2 linked regions of the Homo sapiens genome follow. The protein of the gene in region 2 interacts with the protein of the main gene of each other region in a pairwise test. Each region holds a gene or a part of one and is shown on either strand. Other genes may lie near its edges. The genes, in order: MEIS3 and FAM110B.

The links.
Region 1: the proteins of FAM110B (region 2) and MEIS3 interact in binary tests that used the Homo sapiens proteins (3 or more experiments, as listed by UniProt).

Annotation. Positions count from the first base shown.
Region 1 is NC_000019.10:47,416,526-47,427,722, forward strand, and holds the start of MEIS3 (homeobox protein Meis3), read right to left. Parts: upstream 3,003-11,197; 5' UTR 2,557-3,002; coding exon 2,545-2,556; exon of another isoform or gene 1,223-2,544; coding exon of another isoform or gene 947-1,222; intron 826-946; coding exon 653-825; intron 439-652; coding exon 279-438; intron 178-278; coding exon 127-177; intron 1-126. UniProt on the Homo sapiens protein: Transcriptional regulator which directly modulates PDPK1 expression, thus promoting survival of pancreatic beta-cells. Also regulates expression of NDFIP1, BNIP3, and CCNG1.
Region 2 is NC_000008.11:58,135,220-58,149,284, reverse strand, and holds the end of FAM110B (protein FAM110B), read right to left. Parts: intron 3,379-14,065; 5' UTR 3,055-3,378; coding exon 1,942-3,054; 3' UTR 501-1,941; downstream 1-500. UniProt on the Homo sapiens protein: May be involved in tumor progression.

The sequences.
Region 1 (11,197 bases), on a different chromosome or scaffold from region 2:
CATGACGGTTTGGGGACATGGACCAGGTGGCCTTCTCTCTGCACCCCCCCCACCAACCCCAGGGATGGGGCGTCAGGGAAGGAGACCCATTGGAGGAGGGGGTGTGGGGGAGGGCTCGGGTCTCACCAGATTGTCCAGTTCTGGGTTGGAGGAGAAGAGGGGCCTCTCAGAGCGAACCTGGGAGGGAAGAGAGAGGCCGGCAGGGGGATGTCCCGCCTTCCACCCACCCCTCCTCGCTGGCTCTCTGACTCGGTGTGTGGTGGGTGGGAGGTGCCCACCTGCTTGGCAAAGGCAGCGATGTCCTCGTTGAAGGAATCAGAGGAGCAGACGTCACCTCCAGGGGGTGTCCCCAGCCCAGCTCCGGCCCCGTCACGGGGAGAGCATGTAGCCAGTTCACATTTCTCAAAGACCAGGGCCAAGAGGGGGAAGAGCGGGTGTCTGGGGAGGCAGGAAAGGAGAGAGGTTGAGGGAGAGGCTGGGAGGTGGATGGAGGGGCTGCCAAGATGCAGAACAGCTGGGGAGGGGACAAGAGACCCAGAGAGGGAAGGAGACAGAGACTCGTACACAGAGAGAGACAGAAGCAGACCCAGGGAGCAAAGAAGCAGAAAGACAGAGAGAGAGAGACAGGAGCCTGAGACCCGGCCCCACTCACCCATAGATCTCATCCTTCTCCCTCTTCAGGCCGTCGCTGTCCAAGCCTGGGGGCAGGGGCTGGGGAGGCCGGTGCGGGCCATAGGGCCCTGGTACTGCGGGCACTGTCTCTGGGAAGCTAGCCAGGGCTGCGGGGCCATCCACGATGCCTGGGTAGTGCGGCAGCTCATCATACTGGGGGAAGGTGAGAAGAGAAGGGCGGAGCCCCAGGGAGGGGTCAGCACCCCGAGACTCGGCTGAGGAGCTTCTCTATCCTGGAACCCAGGAGATGCCCTTCTGTGTCCCAGAAACCTGCCTGTGGTCCCCAGGTGTCTGAGCCCCCAAGCTTGAAGCCCTCCAGGTCCCCTGGAGCTGCCTCGGTGGGGAGTGAGGACCCCGTCCAGGCAGAGATTCCTGACATGTGGGCAGGAGGACCCAGAGGGAGAGACGGCAGGGTCTGGCTGGGAGGGAAAAGAGATGGAGAAAGTGGCGTGAGAAGACAGTGACAGAGACAGAGAGAGAGACAGACAGAGAGGGAGATCCATGGACACCTCCTGTAGGAACCGCGCATTGTTGTACACAAAGTACACATACGAAGCCTCCCTGTCTTCTATTTCATTTCACAGTTGGCAGATAAGCGCATCAGAGTAAGTCTCAACAACATGTCACACTCCACTCGCCACGTGAATCTACCACACATGTAGACACAGCCATACACACCAACCCACGTGCACACTCATGTGTCAGTCACACCCAAATCCCCCCCCCCACACACACATGCACACACACATGCACACAGCCCAACACCAGGCACAAGAATGAATGCATGATTGAGACATTTGGCACATGGATGAATGAATGAATGAGGCATTTAGCACAGGGCCTGGCTCATGCTGTGAGCACTTGTTGCCGGAGAGGGTCACTCCGCACCACCATACAGACACGATTGCGCACCCAAGAGAAACACCATTATGGGGTAGGACGACCGCGTCCTGTCGTCACAGAACCATGCACCTGGGAAGCCAGGGGCACCTTCCTCTCATCAGGTCAAATCCCTTCCTCAGTGATGAAGACACGGAGGCTCAAAGAGGCAGCAGGACTCGCACGGGAAGAGGCTAGAACGTTCCTGCCTCGGACCCTCGCCTGGCTGGGCACCCTGGTTCTGTGTGTCCCACTCTTTCCCTCTCCCTCTTCTCCTAACTTCTCCTGTGCCCTGAAGTTGAATCCAACTGCTCCCCGCTGCTCAAGGCACTCTCACCAAAAGCGGTCCTCACAGCCTACCCGGAACCCCCAAAACGGGCGCGCGCCTCCTCCCCTGTCTTCTATCCCCGTTCCCATCCCCAGGGAGACAGGCTCCGTGGGGCCAGCAGCCTGGTGAGACCACCTCTCCCACCCCTGTCCCACTCCTAGCCCTGGAGAGGCAGGGGCGGCTTGGAACAAAAGTAGAGCGAAGGGAAGGACGGAGGAGAGCAGAAAAAAGGGGGGACGGTGAGGTGCGGGCGGCTGAGATGGAGGAGGAAGCCCAGGAACAGAGGAGAGAGACTGCGGGTGGGGGAGGGCAGAGAGAGGGGGATAGAGAGGCAGAAAGAGGGGGGAGACCAGGGACAGAGAGAGGGGGACAGAGAGGCAGAAAGGAGGAGGAGAGTGGGGCAGACAGAGGGGGACAGAGGGGCAGGGAGAAGGAGAAGCTAAACGATGGGGAGGAGGCGAGGCCGAGGGCCAGGAAGAGACACTTGGGGGCAGAGAGGGGGCACACAGGGACTGGGAGACCCAGGGGCGGAGGGAGGGGCAGAGAGAGAGCGAGGTGGTGTAGAGGACGGATGGGCTAATGGGGGCCAGCGCCGGAGAGTGGGGGATGCAGGGACAGGGGGTGCGGAAGCGGCCGGGACGCGGGGTCCCCGCCCCGAGACCTACCCTCCGGGCCATGGGCTGAGGCCGGCGGCAGCTCCTGGGTCCCTCCAGAGCCTGGCCGCGGGGGAGGGCGCAGCCCGGGGCCGCAGCCCCTGACGGCCCGCGGTGTTGACGCCAGGGGGTGGGCAGGAGGCCAGGCGCGCGCCCCCCCACCCCCGCCGCCGTCAGCGGCAGGCGCCGGGCCGGGTGGGGACTCCGCGCATGGACCCCGGCCCCCGCCCCCAGCGGGGGTCACGGCCAGGAGCGCATCGCCGCCGGGGCGGGGGCAGCAGGCGCAGGCGGGGCGCCCGAGGCCCCCTCCTCTGGGCCCCCCCCGTCCCTTCCCCGGCTCTGGAGGGAATCGAACCGTCCCGAGACGGACACACCGGGGACCGCAGGGGGCGGGGGGCGGCCCGGGGCGACGGAGGGTCCGGCGGCGGCTCAGGGGTGCTGGCAGCCGCGCTCCCCGTTCCCGGTCTCTCCCTTGTCTTGTGGAAATTAAACAGAACCACCAAGGAGCGGGATAGGGGATGAGCCAGAGTGAGCCTGCAGAGCTACAGCACGAGGGATTGGGGTTAGGGCAGCAGCAGCACTTCCGGTGGGAGTCGGGGAGGGGCAGGCTGTGGGGGGAGGAGAGGAAGAGACCGCGGCCCTGGTGCCCCCAGGCCCCTCCTCTCCTACCCAGGGCTGGGGTTCCTGCTCCGGGTTTCTCAGTCTCCCTCTTTCCCAGTCTCTCTCTCCTTGTCTCTCTCTGTCTCCGCTTCTCCCGTCCTTTCTCTCCTCTGGCTCTCTGTTCTCCGAGCCCCCTGGACACACCACGGACCCCCTCCCTGGCCATCTCCAGGGGTCACGTGGGAATCTGGAGTCTGGTCCCACCGTAGGCTCTCCCCTCTCTGAGGCTCGATTCCCCCTCTGCAGGATGGGCAGTGCGCTGGGGGCGGCGGGGGTGGGCTGTGGATAACGGAGAAACAGTTAAGCTAGAGGGTGCCAGGACTCAGGGTCTTGGCTGAGTCTGGGGGTCCCCATGCCGGCGGGCTCTGCCCCCGTGGCTGTCCTGCGGTGAGGCTGGCCGTTTAAGGCAGTCCGAGGGGAAGGGTCTGGAGGCCTTGCCTTTCCTCAAGGCCGGCGCACCCCAGATAGGGGTTTTGGAGCAGAAAATTAATTTAAATCACTTTTTAATTAAAGACACAAGGCCCTTTGGTCTGCTCCACCCCCACCTCACCCTCAGCCAAGACTTGGGGTGAGGGATGCAAGGGTTAGGAGTCTCTGGCTCTATTTGCTTTTTTGGGGGGTGGTGCATGCTAAGGTCCCCTTAGCCCAGGCTGATTCTGAAACCTAGAGGAGCAAGTGCGGCCTCATCTGACGGCCAGTGGTGGGGGGCGTGGACAGAGCAGGAAGGGAGGGAGGGGGCACCTGGGATGGGGATGGGGCCTAACTGGAGTGGGGAGGGAGGTAACTCCAGTGACGGTGTGATTCAGAGAGAGAGAGAGACAGAGACAGACGCGGGTGGGAGGAGAGAGAGAGAGAGGTGCAGACAGAGTGAGACAGACAGGAGGGGGAGGGAGTGGGGGACAGGAGCTCCAATAGAGACCCTGGAGTCGTCCCTGCCACCCCCAAAACAAGAGCAGGGGGCTTGGACTCTGAAGCATAAATCTTTCTAATTAAAGAAAGAGACGAGCTGTTGGGAAGGGAGAAATAAGTGTGTGGGAGAGAAATTGATTGGGGGAGGATGGAGGATGCCGGCGGGGGACGGAGGGAGCAGGGGGGAGGCTCCGGCTTTCTGAGGCTCTTCCTCCAGTCTTTCCCTCTGTCTGTCCATCCGTCTGTCTGTCCGTCTCTGTCTCTCGCTCTCTCTCTCTCTCTCTCACACACACACACACACACACACACACACACTCTCTCTCTCTCTCTCTCTCTCTCTCTCTCTCTTCCTGGCTGTCTCCCTTAAATAGTCCTGGGACCCTTCTGTTCCCAGGGGGAGGGAGCAGGTGGCGGCCAGGCCTGGTGCTGGAGCGGGGGTGCCTGTGTCACTGCGTCGCGGCTGCCTGTCGGCTCTTCGAGGGTGTGCTTGGGCCTCCCTGTGACAGTGTCTGGAAGCGTCTTCCCTGCCCGGCTGAGTGGCTCCCTGGGTGGCATCAGAGTGACCCCAGCTCCCAGTCTGCAGGGGTCTCCGCCCTCTAGCCCTGTCCTGCACCTGTTTTACAGACGGGAAGCGTGGAGCCCTCTATGAGTAGATCTGGGGGACCTCATGGGTCTCCCCAGCACGGGCTGGGCGATCTCTCAGCGGACTGGCCCTTCAGTGCCCCAACCTGAGCACCGACCACTGGGGCTATGCCCACCAGGCAGCCACGTCCCCCGGGGATCCGCAGTGGTCCCCAGGATCCCCTCTGAAAGCCTACAGGAGCAGACCGAATGAACGAGGATCCACCTTGGGTTCCTCCTGTCCTCTCTCTCGGGCCTGCTAGCCTCCTGCCTCGGTTTCCCCTCTTTATCAACCGCTCTGTGTCTGTCTCTCTCCTTCTGGGGGCCCAGGTTTGCTTCCTCCTCCTCATTCCAGGCTCTCTCTGAGAATCTGTGTCTCTGCTCAGGAGGGTGGGGGAAGAAGGGACCCTAAAAGACAGGCCGTCTCTGTCTCCATCTCCGCCTGGGCTATGTCTGTCTGTCTGTCACCTGGGCTGTGTCTGTCTGTCTGTCTCCTGGCTTTTTTTTTTTTTCTTGTATCTCTGTGTCTCTTTGTCTGGATGTCTTCTCTGCCTCATCTTTCTTATCTCTCTTTCTCTCCATCTTTCTCGGTCTCTCTCTCCAGGGGCCTCTGTCTCTTCTCCCTCCTTCCTCTCCCTCTCTCCGCCTCCCTGTCCCCCCCACCGTATCCTCCCTGGGCTTCTGTCTCCCTGGCTCTCTCCCCTCTCCTCCACCCGGGCCCTTCATAAATACATCGCCCCCTTCCCGTCCTCCCGCTGCCTGGCCCAGCTCCAGGAGAAGGAAACATTTATCTTGGTGGGGGCGCCCACCCCTGCGCCCGCCCCTCCGCCCGCTGGCCACGCCATCCATCACCCGAGCCCAGACTCCTGTGGCTCATTCGTCACCGGCCCTGACAAATGCCTGCCGCCCCCTTCCCCTCCCGCCCCACCAAGCAATCATACCATTAGCCACGGCTCAGCGGTGGCGGGAAGGACCCGGCCTGACCCGGGCGGGGGGCGGGGCACAGGCTGCGGCTCCCACCGAGACCCCTCTCTCCCTCTTTTCCTTCCCTTTCTATCTCTCCTCGCCCTCTCCGTCTTTTTTGTTGGAATCTGCTTTCCTCTGCCAGTTTCTCGCTGTGCCTCTGGGTCCTGTCTCCGGTCCGTCCTCCTCCTCATCCTCCTTTTCCTCACCCTCTCTCCTTCTCTCCTTCTGTCTCTGTCTCTCTCTTACTGAGTCTCTTTCCAGTTCTGACTCTGTCTCTGTGTCTCTCTATAACTGTATCTCTCTGTCTCTGCCCGTCTGTCTCTCCCTCTCTGTCTCTCATCTCTCTCTGTCTCTCCCTCTCTGCCTCTCCATCTCTCTCTCTGTCTCTCCACTCTGTCTCTCCCTCTGTCTCTCCCTCTCTGTGTCTCTTCATCTCTCTGTTGCTCCCTCTCTCTCTGTCTCTCCATCTCTGTCTCTCCCTCTCTCTCTGTCTCTCCATCTCTCTGTCTCTCCATCTCTCTCTGTCTCTCCATCTCTGTCTCTCTATCTCTCTCTGTCTCTCCTTCTCTCTCTGTCTCTTCATCTCTGTCTCTCCCTCTCTGTCTCTCCATTTCTTTCTCTGTCTCTCCATCTCTCTGTCTCTACCTCTCTCTCCATCTGTCTCTCCCTCTTGCTCTCTGTCTCTCCATTTCTCTCTGTGTCTCTCCTTCTCTGTCTCTTCATCTCTATCTCTCCCTCTCTGTCTCTCCATTTCTCTCTGTCTCTCTCTTTCTGTCTCTCCCTCTCTCTCCCTCTCTCTCTGTCTCTCCCTCTCTCTCCATCTCTCTCTGTCTCTCCCTCTTGGGGTCTGTCTCTCCATTTCTGTCTGTCTCACCATCTCTCTGTCTCTCCATTTCTCTCTGTCTCTGTCTCTCTCTGTCTCTCCATTTCTCTCTCTGTCCCTCCCTCTCTCTCTGTCTCTCCATCTCTCTCTGTCTCTCCATCTCTCTCTGTCTCTCCCTCTGTCTCTGTGTGTCTCTCTCCCTGTCTCTCCATGTCCCTCTGTCTGCCATGGGCTCTGTCGGCCCAGCCGTGCCTTTTAAATCTCTGGTCTCTGAGAGTACCCTCGGCGTTGGCCTCACTGGCTTTGTGTGCTGGGAATGGGGTGAGGGTCTTGCCCTGGCGCCCTGGGACGCCCGCCCCGCCCCGCTCCCCACCTCGCTCTCCTCCCTGGTGCTGTGTTCTGAGTCTCTGGGCTTCCTCCGTCTGCATCTTCTCTGCATCCTGTCTGTATCTCTGTCTCTGCTGCCTCTCCGGCCCCTGTGTTTTGTTCTTGGCTCTCTGCTCCCTCTCCAACTTCCCCTCCTCTTTTTGTGTCCCTTCTCCACCTCCTCCACCGTCTGTGTTCCCCCTCTACTGACCCCACCTACCCCTTTCAATCCACCACCCATGACATTCCCTTCCCCGCACTTCCCCAGGGAGAGAATTGCAGGGAGCAGGCAGGGAACGGGAGGCAAAGGTGGCGAGAAGGAGAGAGTGAGGAGGTACCTTGGGAGGCACTGAAGCCTGGAGCCTCATCCCTCTCTCCTTTGGCCATGTGTGCCTGGAAGTCCTCCCTAGTGTCTGATTTCAATCCTCAGGGGGACGGCAGAACGTGGAGGAGATGCCAGGTACCAACCCTTCCCGATTCCCTGGGAGAGGCCGAGGAGGGAGCTGGGGGCATCAGACCAGGAGAGAGGGCAACCTGGGCACAGTCAGTGCTGTGCTGGTGGCCACCCATTGCCTTACTGGAAGAGGGAGGTAGTGAGACCCCCGTTCTGGGAAGTAATCATAGCAGAGGCTGTCTCTGACCCACTCATACCACCTAGGACCCAACAGCATCTCTCACGCTGGCACCTGCGACCCTTCCCTGAATGCTTTCCAGACCAGGGTAGGAGGCGCTAGAAGTCAGCACCCCTAAAGAGGTCCTGGGCCACCATCAGACAGGAGTTAGTGGATACATAACCCAAAGTCTTCAGGTGGGGAACTCCAGAGTTCCCTGAGAGGTCCCCAGCAGGATGGAGACCTCATTGTCCACAGGGTGACCTGCTCATTCAACACTGCCTTTATTATTTATTTATTTATTTATTTGAGATGGAGTCTCGGTCTGTCACCCAGGCTGGAGTGCAGTGGTGTGATCTCGGCTCACTGCAGACTCTGCCTCCTGGGTTCAAGTGATCCTCCTGCCTCAGCCTCCCGAGTAGCTGGGATTATAGCCACCTGCCACCGTGCCCGGCTAATTTTTGTATTTTTAGTAGAGATGGGGTTTCACCATGTTGGCCAGGCTGGTCTTGAACTCCTGACCTCAGGTGATCCGCCCACCTTGGCCTCCCAAAGTGCTGGGATTACAGGCGTGAGCCACCGCGCCCAGCCTTCAACACCACCTTTAATGGTTTTCTTTCCCATCTCCCTCCAGTGCCTCCTGGGATCACCTCACAAATAAACTATTTCCCTCCCATCCTTGCTGTGGGCTGGCTTCTGTTGGTGCTCAGCCTAAGACGGTGGCCAGCGGGGGCATGATGGATGGGCAGAGAGGAAACAAAGGGAAAAGAGGGACCTCTCGTGGTGGTGAATCATATGTGTCTACGTGGCTAGGCTGTGCTGCCCTCATGTTCAGGCATCAGCCTAGATGTTGCTGTGAAGGGGTGTGTGTGTGTTTGAGACAGGGTCTTGCTCTGTTGCCCGGGTTGGAGTGCAGTGGTGCAATCTTGGCTCACTGCAACCTCTGCCTCCCGGGTTCAAGCGATTCTCCCACCTCAGCCTCCTGAATAGCTGGGACTACAGGTGTGAGCTACCACGCCCAGCCATTGTAAAGGTATTTTAAAAATGAGATTAATAGCCGGGCGCGGTGGCTCACTTTGGGAGGCCGAGGTGGGTGGATCACAAGGTCAGGAGATCGAGACCATTCTGGCTAATGCGGTGAAGCCCCGTCTGTACTAAAAATACAAAAAATTAGCCGGGCGTGGTGGCCGGCGCCTGTAGTCCCAGCTACTCATAGTCCCAGCCACTCGGGAGGCTGAGCCAGGAGAATGGCGTGAACCTGGGAGGCGGAGCTTGCAGTGAGCTGAGATCGCACCACTGCACTGCAGCCTGGGCGACAGAGCCAGACTCCATCTCAAAAATAAAAAAAATGAGATTAACATTTAATATCGATTGACTTTGAGTGAAGCAGATTGTATGGGTGGGCCTTATCCAATCAGTTGAAGGCCTTAAGACTGAGGTCCCTCCAGGAAGAAGGAGTTCTGCCTCCAGATGACTTTTAGGTTTTGCTTGGGTTTTGTTCATTTGTTTGTTTTTTGAGACAGGGTCTCACTCTGTCACCTAGGCTGCAGTGCAGTGGCATGATCATGACTCACTGCAGCCTCAACCTTGTGGGCTCAAGTGATCCTCCCACCCCAGCCTCTGGAGCAGCTAGGACTACAGGTGTGCACCACGATGCCTAGATAATTTTTATTTTTAGTAGAGATGGGGTCTCACTGTGTTGCCCAGGCTGGTGTCGAACTTCTGGGCTCAAACAATCCTCCCACCTTGGCCTCCCAAAGTGCTGGGATAACAGACATGAGCCACCACACCCGGCCTGGGAGGCTAATATATATTCATTTAATCCCCACGACAACCCTGTGACATAGGTACTGTTAGCATCATCATCACGCATTTTCCAGATGAGGGAACTGAGGCACAGAGAAAGTCAGCCGCTACACTATGCTGCCTCCCAGGACAATGTTAATCACTCCCAAGCTGACCCCATAGAGCTCTTTGCATCCAGGTGAGAATCATGACCTTCGGGGTGAGGTGACGGGACAGGTGTGAAAGTCCTCATGTTTTCCAAGCCTCAAGCTCTCAATGTGTCTCTCTTTGCAGCTGAGACCTTACTCATCTTCCTGCACCAAGACTCTACACCCCCTTTGTTTGCATTTGTTAAGATGAAGGTGTCCCAGACCTGGCACGATGGTTCACGCCTGTAATCCTTTGGGATTACAGTAGTTCACTTTGGGAGGCTGAGGTGGGTGGATGACCTGAGGTAAGGAGTTCAAAGGAGTTTGAGAACAGCCTGGGCAACATGGTAAAACCTGTCTCTACTAAAAATACAACAATTGGCCAGGTGTGGTGGCGGGCGCCTGTAATCCCAGCTACTTGGGAGGCTGAGGCAGGAAAATCGTTTGAACCCGGGAGGTGGAGGTTGCAGTGAGCCGAGATCGCGCCATTGCACTCCAGCCTAGGCAAAAGGAGTGAAACTCCATCTAAAAAAAAAAAAATTTGAAGGTGTCCCTTGTCCCATTCTACATCGTGGAACTCATCCTGTCCCATCTTTGCCCTTCTACCTGTGAAACTTTGGGCACATTGCTTCACCTCTCTGAGCCTTAGTTTCCTCTTCCGTGGAATGGGGTGATGTATAGAACTGGCAATAGGTTTAAGCAGATCATGCTTGGGGGGGTCCCCATCACTGCCAGCTGCTGTTAGCACAGGCCTCCCTTGCTTTCCTGTGCCCCTGTAGTCAATGCCCTCTACTGCTCCTCCAGCAACCTCCCCTCCTCACATCAGGACTCTCCAGAGAGTGATCTACATGCCCTGACTCAATTTCCCCACCTCCCACTGCAGATCAGTGCACCGTCTGCCCCTACACCTTCCACAAACCTGTTCTCATCAAGGCCTAAAGCCAAAGGTCGATTTTTTTTTTTTTTTGGTAGTGGGGAGACAGGGTTTTTCTCTGTCACTCAGGCTGGAGTGCAGTGGTGCAGTCCTAGCTCACGGCAGCCTCGACCTCCTGGGCTCAAGCAATCCTCCTGCTTCAGCCTCCTGAGTATCTGGGACTACAGGCACATGCCACCACGCTTGGCTAACTTTTAAAGTTTGTGGAGACACGAGGACTCGCTATGTTGTCCAGGCTGGTCTTGAATTCCTAGGCTCAAGCGACCCTTCTGCTTTGGCTTCCCAAAGTGCTGGGATTACAGGCGTGAGCCACCATGCCGTGGGCCTATTGTCTTACCTTGGACTTCAGGTTGGGTGCGGCCGGTGGGAGGAAGTGGCAGGAGACTAGCAGGTGGGAGCAGAATGAGGTCGAGGTGCTTACTCTCCCGGCGCCCCGCTATCCCCAGTGCAGGTTGGTGATGCCTGTACTCTTCTACTCTACAGACTCAGGTCCCCAGGTCTCTGCAGCCTCGGGTGCCTCTGCTCACCCCTTCTAGCCCAGGTATGGCAACTGCTCCCTCTGCTGCTAGCCCTGGGGTACTACACCTTCCCTCGTTTTCCCCAACCCTGCCCACTCCTCAGTAGCCCTTTCACCCAACTCTCCCTGGCTACTCCGTTTGAATGAACACACCACCTCTCTCCTGCCAAGATGCACTCCCTGAACTCCCTCACGCAGCCCCATCCATTCTCTCTCTCAACCACTCCCTTCTCACCATCGCCCTCCCACCCTCCTACTCCCCTCTCCCCTCGTCTGCTGCCTCTGTCCCTGCTCCAGCCTTGTCCCTGGTCTCCCAGCCCCCAG
Region 2 (14,065 bases):
GTTGTTGACTATGGCAGTCCCGTGCCTACCATGATACCTGAAATGAGTCACTCAAACAGTGACATTTTGAAGAGGAATGAAGGAAGGAGTGGAGGAGCGAGTGTGTGAACACATGCCATGGTAGGGATGTTGGGCTGGTACAAATAAAAACGAAGCCATACATTTCAAAGGTGTGCCTCCAAGGTGAGAACTCAAAATATTTATAACTGAAGAGTTGTGTGGAAGATGTAAAAAATCCTGATGTTTAAGAAAAGACAAAAATAACACAAGTGTGAACTGAGATGCTGCAGCACATTTTAGGAACCTTGATGTAATCAGTTTAGCAAAAGCACATTGCTAGAGCCACAATTAAGAACACTGGTGTTTAGAGTAATTGGAATATGGTGAAAATAACTTAATGAAATAATGTTTCTTCAAGCCTATCAAAAATCTGCTTCTGTTTCATAGTCCAAAGTTAAACTTTTGTGCAATACAGGACAAAGAGAAACCACCACCATTAGTGCCTGCACCACAGCAATTTATTAGCGTAACTTTTTCTTTTTTTCTTTAAAGATTTCATAACAACTGAAGTATGTACAAAGTCTTACAGCATTTACACCATAAAAAGTTTCCTATTAGCTCATGAAGTCTAAGGTAGTGCTGCTGAGAACTTCAGATGTGGCAAAGGCAATGAGGCAAACCACTTGTAGGTTTCCCTCTCTGCTGCCACATCATGGTGTCAGCTGAGTGACAGCTAACTGTACCACCTGGAAGACAGGTTATTGGGAAAAAAGGGGACAAGTTGATAGGCAGCACTAGAGACCATGGGGTGGAAAAGCTACATAGCATTGTATTTCTACAGTTTCCTAGAGCTGTAACAAAGATCCACAGCCTGAGAGAATAACATATGCAAGACAACAGAATCACGCTGCTCAGATATGGTTCAGCTACCAAGTGTGTTCACTTTTGAATGGAAGGCTCTACTGATATGGCTGGTATTTGACTTCTGTTCATGTCTTCAGATAGCTCAAATCTGCACAAGCCTCACTCCCTTCCCCCAAATCAAATAACAACAAAGGGAGAGAGAAAGAAATAGCATGAAATTAGTAGTTCTCGACCAAAAAAAAAAAAAAAAAAAACAAAAAACCACAACTTTTTTTTTTTTTAAAGGCATTCAGTATTTGTTTTAGGGTGGTCATTCTGTCGAAAGATAATATTAGGAATTTCTGAATTATCCCAATCAGAACAACATCAACAAAACCCCCAAACACCCAACCTCCTAGATTTAACCATCTTTCTTTGTATCTGATCGTCTTTCCTTGGGGTCAGTATTACATAGAACCACCAACGTTTACACACTGAATCGGACACAAAACGTAGCATTGTTACCCCAATGACTGCTTCACTAAGTGGCAAGAGAATTTCAACATGTAAACGATTAACGTCAGGCTCACCACTTTATTCCACAGAAAACCCAGCCTGGTTCTATGTTCGGTCAGTCATTATCTGTTTGGTAGCAGATCCCATTTACTGTCCCACTGGAATAGTCTCACATGTAGGCAAAGTGGCTTTTTATTTCAAAAAGATTCTGCTCTCAACTTAAAAGCCAGTTGATAAAACTTTTAATTAAGACACAATAGCGCGGGATATAAAAACACAAGAACCACATAAATATCGAAGAAGTTGTATACCATTTTCATGTAAACAGTTTTGCTTACGAGCAAAGCCCTAATTAGATTCTGGCCTGAAACTTTTGGCAGATGACGCGTGTTCAGCCAGGCTCTGTAGCGATGGTGACGTGGAAGCCAGGTCAGTCCCCATGTTGACAAGCATGCAACTTGAAAACATTGCACAACAAGCAACACAAAGAGTGGAGAAGCTCACAACACTTCAAGGAGACCTCACAACCTTCACAACTGCGTAAGCACAGAGACCCACGCTCCCTCCTTTCCACGCACTGTCTTACACATGGGAGACCTTCTGTGACTCTCTAGCTTGTTTGATGCTATATAACCACTTGATGATTCTAGCATTTCTTTCGATGGCAGAAATGCCATACGGCACGCGGTCATTGGCACTGTCATCATTTCTAAGGTCACTGTTACTGTCCTGAGACTGTTCACAGTCTGAGCTGATCATGCTTGCGCTGCGGAAGTTGAGGGATATTATGTCAGAATTAGCCCTTGCAAAGTTTTCCATTCCCAGGTTTTCCAGCTCTTCCGGGTCCAGTCCACAGTAGTTGAAGAACCTCTCCACGTCCGCGTCCACTCGGAAATATCTGTCACTCAAGTCTGACTTAGACCGCTGGAGGGAGGGTCTTCGGCTGACTCCACAAGCTGGTTCCACAGGGTCGGCCTCGGGGGACTTCATGGAGGCGATGGCTGCGATTTTGGGCTTGGGAGGCAGGGGAGGGGCAGAGCTACTGCAGGGGATGGCCTTGAGGGGCTTCACGCTGGTCACCTTGCGGATGTCCGAAGAGCTGTGGGACACGTGGAGGAAGGACTCGGCTGACTGCTCCAGCAGTCTCCTGCCCACGTGGGAGCCGCCCTCCTGCGGGCTCCTGCGGCCCTGCGTGGGGTAGACCTTCAGGGACTCCGCGAAGGAGTGACGGTGCAGGTCAGTGGCTTCCGACCGGTGGGGCGGCCAGTTGCGGGAGCTGTGCTTGTGCCCCGAGCCCGAGCTAGAGCCCTCGGAGCTATTGATGATGTTCTTCAGGATCTCCAGCTTCAGGTTCTCCCTCTGCACGCCGCTCTCGGTCTTGGCGTGGTTGCCGAACACTTTGAGCGTGGGGCTGCCCAGTGCGCGCTTGGCAGCCGGGCACACCGGGGGCTTGGCCAGCACGGCGGGCTTCACGGGCTCCTGCTTGGCGTTGATCACCTCCTGGCTCTTGACGTACTTGGCCTTGTCGGCCTCCAGCCTCTCCACGGCGCTGAGCCTCTTGGGGTTGGGCTCGGCCTGCCTGCGGAAGTAGTCTGGCCCCTTGTTCAGGATGCGCAGGGGCACAGCAGAGGTGAAGGTGCCCGCGGGGCTGACCGGCTTCACCATGCTACCTGTCTGTAGGGTCTCCGTGGGCATGGTGGGCGGTCTTTCCCCGGCAGCCGTGTTGGATGCTCTTCTGGGCGCCTCCGCAAGGCCTGAATAGACACATGTACATGAAGCGCCAAGGGCGGCGGGTGCAGCCTGGGAGCGAGTGTCAGCAGCAGCGGCCGCAGCAGCGCCTCATCTCACAGCTCATTAACCGCCACGGTGGCTTTCATACACTTTTCTCCCCTTCCAGGCGGCCCTTGCACAAAAAGGCCACAAGCCACAAGTTCCTTTAATCTGCTTCGCTGCCTCCTTTCTTCTCCCTGAAGGAGGTGGGAGTCTCCTCCAGGTCTTTGTGTTCAACTGCAGGCAGAGCTGAAACACAAAACAACCAACCGCGGGTTAGGAGGGGCGGGTGACATCACGGCTCTAGCAACAGAGAAACCCCGCAGCGCCCCCGCCCCGCCCCTGCGCGGCCGAGGGTCGTGGGCCGCAGCTCAGTAGCTGTTTTCCCGACCGCGCGAGGGGGACGACCCGGGCCTTGCGCCCCCGCCTGCGCCGACGCGCGGCAGCACAACGCTGTGCCGGGAAGAAAGAAAGGGCTGAGGTTTCCCACGCGCGAACTCTTCCAGCTGCCTCCGGATTGGTGAGATCCGCCTTCTGAACACGCCCGGTTGGCATTTCTCAGCTCAAAACCCAGCAAATACTTGATGAACGTAGGAATGAGGGCTTAGCCAAGCCCTGTTCCCCAGCTCATTACATGCCACTGAGTTCCTACGAATCCCTTCCATGCCCCCCGGTTGCAACGTCGTGAATTATCTCTTTTGCAATGAAGCAAAACTTCTCCCTCTGTACTACCAATTTCTCAGGAATACTTGCAACAGTCACTTTTTTAACTTCATAAACTGAAAAGGGCAAGAAATGGGATTGGCAGCAAAGCTACAAAGTTTAAAAAAAAAAAAAAAACCTCAACACGTTTCAGTTATCTTACTTTGGCCAACCAATATATTTAAAAACTTTCTCCTGAAAACCACAAATGTGTATGGAGTTCCACCCATTAAACACAAGCTTATTTTTTTTTAACATTAGAAGATCCATAGAAATACTTCCAAATTTACCATATGAGTAGATAATTTGATTGTCCCTAAGTTATCCATAATTTTTCATACTTAATGAGCAGAAATCAAAAGTTTCTTCATGGTATGTATATTCCCAAATCCTCTACAGTACTAGGAACAAAGTCTTAAAAGTGTCCAATCATACCTAAAAATATGTTACTTTAATACTATAGAAAACTTGGGTAATAGGTAAGCTTTCATGGGACAACTTGACTACCAAGCCAACAACAACAATAAAACCCACTTGTCAATAGTTGAACGTTTATCAATATTCCTACTGTAATTCTGTAAGGAGTCTTTTTATTTCATATGCCATATAATGTAACTCTTACCCTGCAGCCCCTGGAAACAATTCCTCCCATAGCCTGTTACTGCAGGCAGAGAACATTTACAAATGCATCAGCACTCCAAAGCAAGGGGCTAATGACCTTAACAGCATCTTTGGTTATAATTAGGAATGCTAAGAGAGTAACCTATTCAACTAACATGCCAAATAACTAATTTACAAAATAAATAAAGTCATATTACAACCACATCTGCTGGTATTTCTCCTTATAATTTCCTGAAATTCTTAAATCTGTAAATGCAACCCATCACCATGTTTTGTTAGAGATAATTTTAGTAATCTGTGAAGGGATTTGTTCTAATAAAAATATTTTCCTGTGCAAGATTTGAGAAACCCCAAGGCAATACCTACATTAACAATTTCCTTTAATTGTGCGGTTCTATTTTGATACCTCAATTTAGTATAAAAAACAAAAAACACCTCCTCCCATTAAGATGAAATGAGATTGTTTCTTTGAACACATTTTGAATGAAATGCCAGAAGGGAGCCCCGATTCCTCTGGAGGCACAATCTCATCCTCTTTACAGAAGAGACTCAGAGCCAGAACAGGCAGCAGAGCCTGGGCCAGGATGCAACTCCGAGGTCATCATACCCGGGACCCTTGGGAGAGGGCTGACCCCAGGACAATACCAGAAAGTTTGGGGGCACAGTGAGGGGCAGGACCAAGATCTGCAACCTTCAGCTTTGTGCCTGAGGACTAGAGTGGGAATACCACCTAGTGGGCAGTGGGAGACAAAGTTCATCTCCCTTCTCCTGGGGCACGAGTTAGTTGGACAAGATTCCTTCAATCCCTTCGTACTGTAAAATCGTGAGGTTCTGAGGATCTAAGAATGAAGGAATTACTTCCAGTTTCAAAATGGCGTGTTGGAATATTGGTGAATGACTGAATTTTTCTATGGTCCCGCACTGACTGTTCTTAGGCCAACGCTCTCTGAAGATGAGTTGTAGTTCTCATGTAACATTCCTCCTCATGCAGGCCTGTGCTTCTCTTCTAACCATCTTCTCTTCTAGTTCTATCATATTAGGACCAGAAGCCTAAAACACCTACACCACTGGCGTGGCCTTCCATGCACACCTGCGTGTCTGTTAAGGTAGGCTTTGGTACTGTTGGCAACACTGAATAAAAAGCCTGACTGTCGATTCACAAGAGTGAGGAATACCAGTCTATCTTCTAAGAAGCATTTTCCAGAAAGCTGCTTGTCTTCCTTGCACACTGCTTTCTCTATTCATGTGGCAGACACCCTCAAGACGGCTCCTCCAGCACTCACAATTGTTCCACACCCCTCAACAATTACTAATCTTAAAATCTGTGTGAAAGAATTATGTCACACATAGCAATTATCTGCAAGTATTTCATACTTCATTTCCTTTTGGCTTCTACCCCTTCCCACTCCTCCTCTGCTATTCCCAATTTCCCTAATAATTTTCAACACAGTGATGATGTTTTGACATGACCATGGTTAGAGTTTATAGTTTTGATGTGAACTCTGGGAAGGAAAAAAAACAACTTCATCTTATTGGAAGACCCAAAAGCAACAGAACAAACTAAAGATACTGTTTGGGGTGTTGTGGGATACTAAGGCATACTCCAAGTTTTCTACCTGGTTTAGCCAACAAAGTAAACCTACTTCAAAAATAAGCAGGTGACTTAGGTTGCTGTCTCTTGTAATATTTACTTAATCCTTAACTCTGGTTCTTTTATTTTTTACTGTGAAACAGTGTGGGCTGGGACAGAGCTATACAGTGCTGGAGAAATACTCTGAGTTTTGTAGTGTAGACTTTGTACGAGATAACCATGACGTCTGTTCAGAGAGCACTGTGGCACATGATACTCTACTGGCTGTGGCCTTGCTGTCAGCCCTCTGATGTCCTGAACAGGCCCCCTGAGGTGCAGTCAGGCACTGATGGGATAGGCCAACCGCCAGGCTGAGAGGGGCTTCGTGTTGTTTTGAGGAAGGAAAATTAGATCTTGGCCCCGTAGGGTTTCATCAACAAAAATAATTATATAGCCTTGCCTGATCCTTGACTTATGACTCAGGACAGAGAACACAGCCTGAGGGTGGGAGAAACTTCGATTCATAAACCATCTTGGCTACATTCTACCCTGTTTAACATCCATTTGAAAATTTCATGAAGGGATAAAAAGGACTGGGGAAAAGAAACTTGGCAGAGCCAAGGTGCTAATGGTTCGCTGAATCAGAGCAGATATGAACTCAAATGTGAACTCAAAAGCAATCTGGCCTGGGGGTGATGGTGGCAGGGGTCGGGGTGGGGGAGCACATCATCTGTGGGGGAGTCCTGGTTTGTGCAGGGAGAACAGGTGGCACATAGAGCCAGCTGGGGGACAAAGGACCCAAGGACAAGGAAGAGCAATGTTATCTCCCACTACTCACTCTAGTGGTGCTTCTCAAACTTTAATGGGCCTGCAGACCCCTCAAGGATCTCCTTAAAGCACAGTCTGATTTGGTAGATTTCGGGTGAGACCCAGATTACGCATTTCTCACCAGATCCCAGGTGATGCTGTTTGTTGCCTTTGAGTAGCAACAGGAAAGGGGGGAAGCCCATTTCTGTGCTAGCCAGCATCCCATTAGAACCCAAATGCCTCCAGCACAGAGGAAACAGGCCAAAGTTACTTGTCTCTGAATGAGCAAAAGTCTGAGCTTTTTAGGCACAGAAATAGCAATCTCAGAGAATTCCAAGTTTTTAAAACCAAAGTGGCCTGAACCTTTCTAACTTCCCATCTGCCAGCTCCTCACAGGTGCAGTCAGGTGAACAGGTGCAGTCAGGTGAACAGGACCCTCAGCTGAACTATAACCTTGGGGAGACCTCAAGAACATTTGCAATCCTGGAGGTGGTTAGATATAGAGAATGAACCTCATACACAGTTTATTTGAAAAAAATGCTAAAGCCAAAGTTCCTGTAATCCGGGCAATTTGTGCCTCAAAGCCTCTGAGGCCAGGCAGATAATGGGAGAGTGTGTGGCCTTCGGAAAGGAGCCCCCCGCTACGGGCTGCCATGGGGAATGTGGCTCATTGTTGACGCAACAGCAAATCCAGAGCTCTGCACAAACTCTCCCGATTTAAAAATTCAATATTAAAAACACTGTTGGCCACATTTGGGCTGCTGTTTTGTTACTTCCTCTTTAAAGAGTGCTTCTGGTAATGAAAAAGAAAAGGATAGTTAATGCCTAATTAGTCTTTAAATTTTAAGTAGGAAAGAAAGCACTGGAGTTAGAGCAAGGGCCCTGGGAACTGAACACAACCTGGATTCACCCACAGAAGTTTCTATGTGAGAATGAGTAATTCCCCTGTGTCTCACAGCAGGAAAAGGGGGGTATTGAAAGAGCAAGGCTGAGTAATTCAGCTCTAAGTCACCTAACATCTAAGTGTCTTGATTTTCTTATCTATAAAAACAAATGTGTTCAATCTGGTGAGCTGAAAAATGTCTTTAGCTCAAACATTCTTGGGAGCAAATAAAAGAAGCAATTTACCTTTGAAGTTATTAAGAATTCTAGAACTGATTCTTCTAGCTTCCTAACATGCCAGATAACAAAACGTTTACAATATGTGTAAAACTGTTCTCTGGAACACTGCTTTTTGATTTTTCTGGTAATAGTATTTGTGCTTACTAACTTTAAGCATCAGGTTCCAACTTGACTCTGATCACTCTCATATCTATACTCTTGGCTTCCCTTTTAAGAACAGTCGCATCCTTGTCTTTGAAGTAAAAATGCAGTTTCCCACGGCAATGTGAACTTTTGGATTCTTTACAAATGGAAGAGAGATTCATTTACAATACAAGAGTACTGACTGAATTATGGCTGTGTTCAATTAATTAGTACCTATTGGTGGAGCAATTATGTGTAAGACGTAGAAAAATCCTGAACTTAAAAAAAAGATTCAAAATGCATTTGGTAAATGTGAATCGAATGAATGATGTAGAAAATAAATTTGGCAGGACTGTGGCAAAGGACTTGAAGGTAAAGGAAGGGTAAGGAGGAGACAAACTCCAATAAAGACCCAGGAGGCGAGGGCATCCCTCATCAGGGCAGCTTTTGAGTTCATGGTACATTCAAGACACTCCAGTGGCTGGTATGGAGTGCTAGGGGACAGCGGTCAGAGGCCAACTAGGTGTAGCGGAAAGGCAGATGACTTTGGATTTTATTGGGTAATTGAGCATTGGTGACATGGTCATACTTGTATTTTTTTAAACTCCCCTGGCTGCAGTATGGGGACAGGATGAGTGGGGATTAAGTGTGGCTGCACAGAGGTGAGTCAGAGCTTCCCAGGGAAGGGGTCATGGCAGCTGGGCTCTGAGCACCGCCCAATATGGCACTGCCTATGGTTCTGCCCCGTAATGGTTGAGTAGCCTTGGGCAGTTCACTTTATCTTCTCGTGCCTCAGATTTCCCATCTGGAAAATGGGGATAGCAATAGTACCTACCTCTTGAGGGCTTTTTGAGTGGGTTAAATAAGAGCACACAGGCATTTTCATTCACTTCACTCTTAGCAGGAGGGTGGCTTTAGGGTGGAGAAAAGAGTGGACAGTTTCAAGAGATGTTTAAGAGGCACGCTGGGCTGAACTGGGAGACAGACAGGATGCAGAGGGTGAGGAGGTACATGTTGAGGATGAGTCGTTCCCAGCTTCCCACTTGACTACGGAGAAGTGGTTGGCAGGAAGTATACACTCTCCCCTCCAATCCTTGTTCCCTTCTTCCTCTGCACCCTGGGCTTAAGCCAAACAGAACTACAACTACAGTGGTCCCTCCACACCCACTGTGTCCATTCCTGCTGCTCCGTCTGCCTGAGCCATTTTTAACCAACAGCAATGCCATTCCATTGCTTCCTTTATCCATTTTATTTAGACATTTATTATTATTATTATTATTTAAAACAGAGTCTCGTTCTGTTGCCCAGGCTGGAGTGCAGTGGCACAATCCTGGTTCATTGCAAGCTCCGCCTCCTGGGTTCATCCCATTCTCCTGCCTCAGCCTTCCGAGTAGCTGGGACTACAGGCAGCTGCCACCATGCCCAGCTAATTTTTTTTGTAATTTTAGTAGAGACGGGGTTTCACCGTTGTTAGCCAGGATGGTCTCGATCTCCTGACCTCATGATCCACCCACCTCGGCCTCCCCAAGTATTTATTCATTTTAATTCATAATATATGCTATGCTTTTCAACATCTTCCCTTTTCCTTCTCTTCCAAGCACATCATCACTTTCATTAACCCCTTTTATACTGTGAGCATAACTTGTAAAGAATGCAAAAGTAAGGGAGAAAAGTGAAAGAGCGAATGGAGGAGTAAAAGGCTGACCAAAAAAGACTGACTTTGCACACTATAAATTGGACAGAAAGTATGAAATCAGAGGGCCAACCATCTGGAAACATTAAGTCAAAACCATCACCCTTTCAGGACCTGCACTTTTCCAATTACTGAATGCTGTGTCTTTTTCTTTCTTATCTCCATGGTGAAATCCCTCACCATCTATAATTCTGATGCCTGAATCTTCTCTTTCTGACCTTAGCATTGCCATCAGCAATCAGCTCCGGATTGCAAGTAAAATAATCTTCTTGACAACAACACTATCATGTTATAAATTCTTTAAAACCACAGACTTTTCCTAATAATATTTAAACTTCTCATTCCAGTAGTCTAGTCATATTTTAGCGTATTCTTTCAGCTGACTACAGTAGGTCTTCCAATGTTATTTAATAAAGTATCCTCTTGCTCTGTGTTTCCATTATTTTGTTTTAATTAGGCACTTTAATTTTTTCGACAAGATGAGTAAATCATTTCTCCACTTTTTCAGCAACCTTTTAAAGTCTTGTTTCTTTTGACACATCTACTCTATATGACCAGAGGATGGGAAGCAAATGTTGAACCAGGTGTAGAGATGCAGGGAAGGCCAACTTTTACCTTCTAACGTTTTTACAGATACAGGTCAAGGAATGTCCACCCCAGTGGTGCTCCTGAGGTGTGCTGAGGAATACTAGTGCAACAGCACAAAACTCACACAGGCGTGTTGATCAAACGGAAAAGTTATTTTGACTTAAGTGAATATGCACTACGTTGTGACAGGATCCTCCAAGTGGCAAGTCAGGAGGGAGTGGACTGGGTACAGTTTGTTACCCACAAAGGTTTCACAGGATGTCAGGTGGGCGAAGCAAGCTAGCAAGTCTACTGGAATGGGAATAGCTTTGCCTAAAGCCCTTCACTCGGTGCTCAGTTACACAATGGTGGCCATAGCCTCCTCTCATCTCACACTGGCTGGGGCTGAATTCAAGGCCACCCAAAAAAGCCCAACACAGGCCCCTTGGAGCTGAGGAGCCTGGGAACTGGCTTATACCTCCAGTCTGAGAAGTCTAAGGGCAGAGTCTGTAATGGACTCTCTAACCAGATCACACAGGCAGGATGAAGCTGCCTTTCCACAGGCACAAAAATGAGGGTTTGCTCGGCCCACACATGTGCCGGGGAAAGGTGGTCTAGGAGTATTCTCAAAGAAGTCCCCTCAAAGGAGGCCAACAGAAAACAATGTCTGCCCAAAGCCCTCCTCTGAGAAGGCTGGGGGCATCCACTAGCTGAGCAGAGGCGTGGCTGCCTCCACGGAACCCAAAAGCTCCCAGAGAGAACCAGCTCTGAAATGTGCCATGCCCAGGGGACATTGATTCCCACTGCAAGAGCCAGGGAGAGAAACCTTGTCACTTCCGCTGAATGCTCTGTCCGTCCCTTGCTCATTACGCAATGCAGGGTCTGCCCAGTAGAGGCTGGTAGAGCCGTCTGATAAGGAGCAGGAGAGGAGCTGGAGCAAGTAAAGGGGAAAATGATGCTTCTTCTTCACAGGGTCTCCAAGCCAATGCGGCCCTGAGCTGGGAGAAGAGAAACCAGTTTAACTGGACCAGAGGTGGAGTTTTGATCTTGATGTGAGGCAGCACTCTTCCAGGTCTGAAACTGATCTGGGGACTAAATTATTGAAGACGAACTGAAAAGGCTACAGGTCCTGTCTGAGATTTCATCCAGGCAAAGAAATGAGAATTCAGTGGGGCAAATGCTTAGGGCACGGAAAAAGAACACAGGACACTTGACCCTGAGCAAGTTTCTCCAGCTAGTGTACCTGAGTTTCCTCATTTATGGAACATTGATAACCATGATTCCTACACTTCACTGGCTGGGGTGAGAATTCCTTGAGGTGACACATGAAAGTGCTTGGTCAGGAGCTCAGCCCAGAAATTGTTCAGTAAACGTAAGCTGTTTTTTTTTTTAAGACGGAGGCTCACTGTGTTGCCCAGGCTGGAGTGCAATGGCGCAATCTTAGCTCACTGCAACCTCCGCCTCCTATTTCAAATGATTCTCCTGTCTCAGCCTTCTGAGTAGCTGGGATTACAGGCGCCTGCCACTACGCCTGGCTAATTTTTGGTATTTTTAGTAGAGACGGGGTTTTACCATGTTGGCCAGGCTGGTCTCAAACTCCTGACCTAAGGTGATCCGCCTGCCTTGGCCTCCCAAAGTGCTGGGATTACAGGCATGAGCCACCGTGCCTGGCCAATGTAAGCTATTATTAAATGCTGTCCCCAGTGTCTGCAACTTGGCATTGATAATCACCATCATTAGATTTCAAGGTTTATGGTAAATGAATGATCTTTTGTCTTAAAAGGATTCCATTACTCTCAAGTGATACGGCCTGTGCTATTTCTGTCAAAGAGGATTGACCATGCAGTTTCTGGCTAAAAGGTCACTTGTATGACCCCATTTTTATTTGAGTTACAGAGAAAATATGTAGTTTCAAATTTCAAAGCAAACAGTTATGTGAGTGAAACAGGCTAGAGTAAACAATAAAGCCATTATTACAAATGAAATCTGGTGGTAGGAGAAAAATAGCCGGTCAAATCTCAATCCACGATGGATTCTTTACTTTAATGTCATTCTCCAAGGTCATTTAGAGAAGTCATCCACATGCTTCATTTTCATTTGTAAGTAAAGCCATTAACAAAAATGTTAGAAGTTTCTTTTAAAATGTTTTCGTCCTATTTAAGACAACTACAATGAAATAGAGAGTCAGAAAAAAATTTCACATTTCCAGTTCGACATTCTTCCTTGGCCTAAGGTAAGGAATGTGTTATTATAAGAGGGCCCCTAACTTGCATCAGTGAGGGGGAGCCTTGCCTTTTACCTGGGATTACAGAAATCAGTGCTGCGCATAACCAGTGCCAAGAATCACTTGGAAATATAATGACTTGCTTGATGAAAATTACTTTAAGTAATTAAAAAGCAGGGCCACTAGAATTCCTTTACGCAAATACAATAAGAATGCCGCCCTATCCAAACAAACATAAAATGATCCCCCTTTCTGCCAGTGTTTCCTCTCCTGTGGAGAGCTTTATGTGGCTTCATGCTCAGTTGTGACAATGTGTGAGGCCATGACCAAATATTAAATGAATGTGGAGTTCAAGGGACCACTGTCATTTTTTACAGACTAGTCTACTCCAGTCACAGAGTTTATAAGACTTGCTGGGCCGGGGCACGGTGGCTCACGCCTATAATCCCAGCACTTTGGGAGGCCGAGGTGGGCAGATCACGAGGTCAGGAGATCGAGACCATCCTGGCCAACAAGGTGAAACCCCGTCTCCACTAAAAATACAAAAATTAGCTGGGCGTGGTGGCACGTGCCTGTAATCCCAGCTACTCAGGAGGCTGAGGCAGGAAAATCGCTTGAGCCTGGGAGGCAGAGGTTGCAGTGAGCCGAGATCACATCACTGAACTTCAGCCTGGAGACACAGCTAAATACTCTGTCTAAAAAAAAAAAAAAAAAAAAAAAAAAGGACTTGCTGGCTACTGTAAGTCTGAGAGTTAGTGGATTCCCCATTTTGGGTGAACCAGGCACACCTTCCAGCAGTAATAACAACTCAATGAACTCGGTGATTATAAACTCTGGTAGTAACTCCTGCAGTTTATAAGTCTTTGTGCTGTGAGTTCCCACACCTCATCTCAGCGAGCCTCCTTAAAAGGCGGTCTGATCCCCTTGTATAGAGGAGAGGGTGAGTACTGGTGAGTGGCAGAGAGAGCCCAGACCAGAACCCAGGGTGGTGTGGATTTGGGGAGCCGTGCCCAGTGCTTCTACCAAGGTCCATTTTAAGGGTCCGCACTTTGCATGTTACTGCTTTCTCCTTTAGCTGTGTAAACTTGTACTCTAGGGCAAATCTAGCACAAATGATAAAGTTTACTGTGCCAATATATACAGAACATTTATTTTTGAAAAATATTTTAATTTCTAGTAAACAGCCTTAGGGCAGAAGATGATATTTACTCTGAAATAAAATGTGTGTTATAATAAAATTATGAAACATTTAAATTTGAAGGGAGAAAAAGCAGTATTTTGGGTGAATTCCTCTGTGAGTGTATTAGATAAATTGCTACAAAAATTATGTTAAAAAATTACCTGTTAGTAATGACCACTTCCTATTAAGCACATACAATGTCCCCAGAACTGTAATAATGCCCCATTAGTAATGACCATTTCTTATTAGGCACATATGTTGTCCCCAGAACTGTAATAATGCCTTTCACACATTTTTGAGTTCCATCCCGTGAACATCCCTAAACCA